2 linked regions of the Homo sapiens genome follow. The protein of the gene in region 2 purifies or fractionates together with the protein of the main gene of each other region. This does not show direct contact. Each region holds a gene or a part of one and is shown on either strand. Other genes may lie near its edges.

Region 1 (3,501 bases), on a different chromosome or scaffold from region 2:
CCACTACCAAGACTCCCCAAATCTTAAACTTCTCCTTTTAATCAGTAATACTAGAAATAGGTAATTAAAAACATAACTGAAACCCCTAAGACAAAATACTAAAATACTAAAGTAGCGCAATTCCCTGTGTAAAACTGCCCCTCCCTGGGCAGATTCTCAGATGCCCTGGACACAGTCCTTGCCAGCAACTCCCTCTGCCCCTGCTGGTCTGCCTGACTGCCCTTGGCATCCTCTCCAGCCACACTCACCAATCACTCTGCCCAGGGTATCTCCTATCACAGTCCCACAGAGCCCCCACAGTGACAGTAAGGTGGGGGCCTGGCCCACGCATAAATGTGTTTATGTGAAGGGTCCAGGAGCCTCCTAGCCCTGACCACTCTAAAGCAGGAAGTCTTGCCTCAAGAACGCACCGGAAAGAGCTCTTACCATGGCATAATAGCCATCGCTGGCCAAGATGATCACATCGATCGGTGAGGTATGATTGGCCACACAGATGCCACCATTTCTTGGTCTGTTTTCCCTGGGTTTAAAATGTATGCAAAGCAACCAAAATTAGTGTGAAACAGTTCATGTAACACACCTCTCACCTCACATGCTTCATCTGCTCTAACTAAAAGCTCAGAAGTGTCTTCCCATTTGGCTAAGTATAGGTGGGTGGTGTTTCCTGCAGCGCCATCTCCCTTCCTATCAATACAAAGCGCTCTCACCTGTCATGGTAGGTGATGATGGCTGTCAGCGCTCGCACGCAGATCCGGTAACACATTAAGTGAACATGTTTACTCATGAACTCCTTAAACCTGCAATAACAGGACAAGGATTCTGGGTTTTATTTTACATACAGGAAGACAGAAAGAGTTACTGACTTCAACAGCTCAGCAGTCCTTTATAACAGCAAAGTGCTTGTATAGACATCAGCACCTACAGGAAAGTCCTGTGATGCATGAGCACCTTTATGTTCACACATGAGGAGAGAAAGAGGGGACAGGGAGACTCACTTACATCCACCCAAATCAGTGGGTGGAGAATTCACAGCCTAGAATCCGGCATCCGCAGACCACAGGCGGGCTGAACTCCGTTCCCCCAGTCAACATCCAGAGGCAGGTCCAAGGCCAGAGGCCAACCTCCTCACCCGCCCAGGCAGAAGAAAGGTTTCTAAACCCCAGAACTTCCCAAAGGGAGCAAAATATTCTTCACACAAACAGACAAAACCTCCCTACATTTCAAACCATTTTAAAAACTGTATTGTCTCATCACTTTATCCACACAGTCAAATGCTCAAAACTAAACAACAAGCTGTAAAATCTGTTAACATCTGAGTCTCGGACTCTACATGTCTGTGGCTCCTCCCTTTTGTCTTCAAAATGGGAAGAATGTGAGGGCTGAAGGACAAAAAGAACAGTCATAGATCAAAATTTAAAAAAAGTAAAGACTTTACTGCTGATGCCGTTGTTGCCATTGGGTTGTTATTATTATTTGAGATGGAGTCTCGCTCTGTTGCCTAGGCTGGAGTGCAGTGGTGTGATGTTGGCTCACTGCAACCTCTGCCCCCTGGATTCAAGGATTCTCCTGCCTCAGCTTCCCAAGTAGCTGGGATTACAGGCACCCGCCACCGTGCCTGGCTAACTTTTGTATTTTTAGTAGAGACAGGTTTCGCCATGCTGGCCAGGCTGGTCTCAAACTCCTGACCTCAGGTGATCCACCCACCTCAGCCTCCCAAAGTGCTGGGATTACAGGCATGAGCCACCGTGCCTGGCCACCACTGGGTTATTTAATCCATCTAAGATTCCATGGCTTTGGTTGTGTCCAAAGAAGTGTCCTTGCCTTCGATATCTGAGCACCATTCCCAGAACTAACTGTCCTTCAGGCATGGACTGCCACACTCTACTCACCTCCCATTTGGCAAGTATCCCACCACAGTTGTGCCCACCACCAGAAGGCTAATCCCTGTGAAAGCCAGTGCTATCCTGTAAGAAGAAGAAAAGTTAGAGCACAGCCAGCAAATCATTCTACCAAGTACAGAACTGAAGGTGTGAAAATCAAAGGGGGCATCACAAAAACCACCCCCAAGACCTGCTCACCTGGGACCTGGACCAGAGTTCACCTAGAAATGTAAGCAGGCCTATCAGAACCAGAGATCCTTTTGATTCCAGCTGACAGTGAGCCATGGGTCTGGCTCTCAGCTGCCTGCATCTCCTGAGGCCTCAGGCAGCTGGAAGGCTGGAAAACCCTAAGCTGGCCATTCTGCCACAGGGCTGCTCCCTGCTGCCCTCCCCTTCCCTTTGGCTGGAAACCCCGGTGGAAGCACAGCTTCCCTCTGAAGCAACAGGAGGTGGAGCTTGAAGGTATTAGCATCTGGCAAGGCACACTCAGAGCAGCACATGGTGCAGAGAAGCTGAAAGATCAATACTGCCCCTGTACCTGAGAGGCAAGCTTCAGGAAAGAATGAGCCATGTCCAGGAAGGAGTGGCAGAAAGCACACAATGTTCCCTGTCCCTGTGTTTGCTGTCATCTAGAGAAGCAAGCTGTCTTTAAGAAATCCAACTATTTCTGTCTGATATGCAGAGAATCCAAGGGCCTCTAAAGGAGAATCACCAGTGTATCCCTCCAAAGAGTCACGTGGCCTGGCTAACGACAGTCATTCCCTCCTCCTTTCTAAAACGGGAATACACAGCAGAGCAGGCAGGTGGGCTGTGCACCACGTGGGGTGGCAGCAGCGAGCCCCACTCCCGCAGGCCCTGCCTCACCTGAGCGGCAGCAGAAAGCAGTACCGAATCAGCACTCCTAACCCCCACAGGACCGTGAGCCGAAGGCTGATGTACTGGAAGTTATAATTGGTTCTGCTCAGCAGGTTCCAGGACTCCAGTTCTTCTGCTGAGAATCTCTTTGTCACCTCATCATCCATAATGGTCTCCATTCCTTTCCGGCAAAAGTAGAAAATGTCAGAGAGCTCGAACTCTGGAGTGTTGTCCAGAGCCTTACTACTACCACTTCGACGAATCTCTTTGATCTCTTCTTCTAGTGAAGTGGGATCCTTTGCAATGATTCCTGCAAAAGAATGTGTCCCTGTCAAGCAGCACGCTGGGGGAGAGCACGTGAGACATACTCAGAGCACACATCCTGCACTAATGCAGGGAAGAGCGTGTGTGGCACCAGAAGCACTGGGGAACACTGTTCAAATGGACCTCTCAGGACAAGGATCACACCCCCATCTTACCGTTGGTGTAGGGCTTGTAAAGCTGGTGGTTCTTCTCCTTGGCTCCTCGCTCCATTCTCAAGGTAGCCCACTGGGAGGGGAAGGAAGCAAGATACAAGAGCAAGAATGAGACCTGTTTTCAATCAGTGAACACCTCCATCTCTATTCTGTGAAAGCCTCAGTCCCAGTCACCTAAGACCGTAGCCAAGAAGCACATAGTCTAGAAGGAAACTCAAACCACCTCTCCCCAGAGCAGCCCCTTCCTTGACAACTGGGACCAAGAGTTAAGTCACCTATAGCAAAACACT
Region 2 (3,501 bases):
ATTATAATACAGCAAATATTATATAACCCTAAGGGGTATGACGGACTGCTTAACTCAAGGATTCACTGGAGCAAGTTCAGTCTTCAAGGAATGTTTTATAACTCTTGAATCTAAAATAATTTATTCCAACTCATTTTTCACTTAAGAATGAAACATAAAAGGAAGGCATTAACATTCATTGAAAACAACCCACATTTTCCAAGGATCATGCTAGATGCTTAACATTCATTTCTTCATTTAATAATTTTACCAATCTTATGAAGTAGGTATCATTATTCTCATTTTCCAATTAGGAAACTGAGGCTTAGAGAGTTAAAATGACTTCTCTGAAATCACTGGGCTTATTACACAACCAGGCTAAAGACTCTTTCCTTTTTGAGTTAAAGCCCCAGGGTCTCTTCACTGTGTCATGATGGTATATAACTTTTTAAAAAGGGTAGTAGCATCACTAAAAGAAATAACAATAATAAAAATAAGAACCACACACAAGGTAGAGAAATTTAAATGAGATGAGAAACTGTTGCTTTAACTATGAAAAATAATGCCAGTTCATGTTTTTCCATGCTTCACAGTTACCCTATGATGTACATCATCAACAATGGAACCAAATTAAGATTTTATATTTGCCTATGAAGCAAGTAGTTTCAAGGATATTCACTGCCTAGAGCCCAGCAGAGTTGACTTTTTTGCAAGAACCATTTGATGATTTGTATAAGAATATCTAAAATGTGATTCCTCTACCTTCCCAAACTCCCATGTCCCATAATTTTGCAAACAGGACAATGAAGTGACTTTGCATGAAAACATGCTTAGTATTTTGCTTCCTAAATTCTTGTACAGCACATTCCTCTCTAGGAAGACTCCACTGAAGGCCGCATTTGGCTTAAAGTCTTTTTTTCCTAGATGTTTTGGTGATGTCAGAAGCATTAATTTCTGTAAGAAAGGTAAGCTACACAGTCAGAATTCAACTCTGCAGCCAGGTGACTAGATGACCACACTCCAGGATTCATCCCCATTTCAGGATGAATCAAATTACATTAAAATCACATTCAGAGATGTGATTATGTTCAGTGCCTGGGGGGGAAAACCTCCCTAAGTTTCTGCAATCAGGCATATGATAAAGGCTGTAATTACAGAAAAAATTCCAGCAATAATTCAAAAGTGAAATTGGCAAGTGGTATTTCCTAAAGGAAATCACACATCCTTATGCACGTTCCACTTAAAAACGTGTGACTGTGCTCTGGCATTTTTTTGAGAAGTACAAAATAAGACATAGCTTTGTTTAGAAAAAAATCTCTACTTCCATTAGTTAACCAATGTCAAAAGAAACATTAATGACTAACTGGAATAAATTAAAGCTATTTGGTGCTAAATGGAAAACAATACAATGAACACATTTTGGGGGGAAATCAGAAACAGAAATAGTTATGAATATAACCTGCTTTCTTTTTCAATCAAGTAAATCTAGAATTCCCAAATTTTAGAACACACAATATTAAGTATAGCACAAAATTATGGATGCAAATAACAAGGGTTAAGGGATGACAACCTGAATTTCTGACCTTAAAATAATCATAAAAATGACATAAGTCACCTAATTGAGTAGGTAAAGATCATTCCAGGGCTACTTTAATGAATGGTTTATAATTGACTAAATACAGTCTATAAACCTATATTTGGAAAGCTATTTCTAAAACGCATGAAAGCATCTTCCACTCCACTAAACCATCTTCCACCCCACTAAAATCAGAATACAAAATCCTTCCGCAATCCTACATATACCATTGGATTGCTCTGCAGATTCATTTTTCATAAATGTTGCCAATATAACATTCAGCCAAGTCTCTAAGTTAATGAAGTTCCACTAGGGTGTAAGAAAACAAGAAAGTACTGAGTTCTCAAAGAGACTTTTCAGCATTGATGCACCCAAGAAATTTATAAGACATCGAATCATTTCCTTGCCTCTAAAAAATAAGCATTTCCTTGACAATCGTTCAGTACTTTAATTGGAATAAACACAAGACTATCAATGTACACCACCCAAACGGACTCGAGGAGAGCACTTGAGGGATCACCTTTTTGGCTGCTAAGTTAGAGTAGGGGAGAACTTCCAATGATGGTCCTATTTTATGCCCTGAAGGAGATGTACTCAGTTGTCACATCTGAATGCTTGTTTGCCGTATATTTTGCTAAATGATTTTTTGGTTTTACTATAGTTTCTAACAAACAAGCATACGAGAGAAATGTTAGAAAATATGTAGTACAAGTAGAAATATTGCTAGTGTTTTATCCTGCCCTTTGCTTCCATTTCATGGCTGCAATGAAAAGGACGGTCATCAAACTTGGCTATAAAAGAATTATGCAAATTTAACCATATTAATATCATTTTTCTTTTCTTTTTGAACAAAATCTTTCACCCCCTGCTCAAATATCTGTTTTTTGCATATATGAGAATTTTCCCAGATGCTGGCATGAAAAGTCTATGTAGGTATTTTGGCTTTCTGTTTAAAATCACATTCAGAGATGATATTCCACTGCTAGGATATAAATCAGAACTCCATTACAATACCACATACGATTGTATTGATGCCATTTGTCCACTATTTAAAAAAATAATTTAGGTGTTTGCAGGAATTACTTCTAAGCTCTTTACCAATCTGCTTTCCACTCACCTAAGTGGTAGGATGGCCACGATTGTTATTAAAACTCCCTCAAATTCTACTCTAAAAATAGTTGAAGTCATGTTTATTATGGTGTGCAAAGTGGGTCATTGTGATGCAGAGGCAGATGGCAGGGCTGGCCAATGATTCTCTTTACAATGGATGCTGATCAGTTCCTGGTCAAGTGACCTAAGACATGATTGTGTCAATCAAGAAAAACAGCCATGACAACAATAATGACAAGCCCTGCTGGGCTAGGCTGCTGACTGGAAGGTACAGCTACGGTGACACAAACTTTCTTCCTCAGACATCTCTAAAGAGATGGTTCTTTCTTGGTAATTGCCATGTGTTCATTTAAAAAGAAAAGGCCTTGCAACTTTCTAGGCACATACACACTTTCCTATGAAAATTAAATTGTTCACAAAATCATTATGCCCACTTTCAGAAAATAAGAGACAAATAACTGCTGAATTGGCTTTGGGAGGCTTATGTAACCTATATTTACAAGTGTTTTACTCTGAAGCAAGTAGCTGAGGAACTTAGTAAACATCTGCAAGAATACCCCAAAATTATTTTTTCCACTGCTATGTTAGTCTAGCTATCACAGAACTGCAGAATCAATCTGCTATCCACAAGAGCCCCAAACACCATCACATCAAAAGAACTGCAGATCTCAAAAACATAATAATTCAGAACCGTAGTCAAGAAAAGCATTAAATAAAAATCCACCACCACCAACCTTTGCTTGGGCTTCTGGTGCTGTCACCTTGACGACCTTATTGCGGTTTATCATTTGCTTCACCCATTTTTCTACTTGGACGTTGAATTTCATGAAAACCAC

Evidence for each region.
Region 1: the proteins of SLC24A2 (region 2) and GPAT4 purify together in Homo sapiens (affinity purification with mass spectrometry; one large-scale study listed by BioGRID and IntAct). This does not show direct contact.

What each region holds. Positions count from the first base shown.
Region 1 is NC_000008.11:41,609,199-41,612,699, reverse strand, and holds part of GPAT4 (glycerol-3-phosphate acyltransferase 4 isoform 1 precursor), read right to left. Parts: intron 3,285-3,501; coding exon 3,215-3,284; intron 3,046-3,214; coding exon 2,745-3,045; intron 2,739-2,744; exon of another isoform or gene 2,079-2,738; intron 1,965-2,078; coding exon 1,890-1,964; intron 798-1,889; coding exon 708-797; intron 521-707; coding exon 427-520; intron 1-426. UniProt on the Homo sapiens protein: Converts glycerol-3-phosphate to 1-acyl-sn-glycerol-3-phosphate (lysophosphatidic acid or LPA) by incorporating an acyl moiety at the sn-1 position of the glycerol backbone. Active against both saturated and unsaturated long-chain fatty acyl-CoAs.
Region 2 is NC_000009.12:19,782,538-19,786,038, forward strand, and holds part of SLC24A2 (sodium/potassium/calcium exchanger 2), read right to left. Parts: coding exon 3,400-3,501; intron 1-3,399. UniProt on the Homo sapiens protein: Calcium, potassium:sodium antiporter that transports 1 Ca(2+) and 1 K(+) in exchange for 4 Na(+). Required for learming and memory by regulating neuronal Ca(2+), which is essential for the development of synaptic plasticity.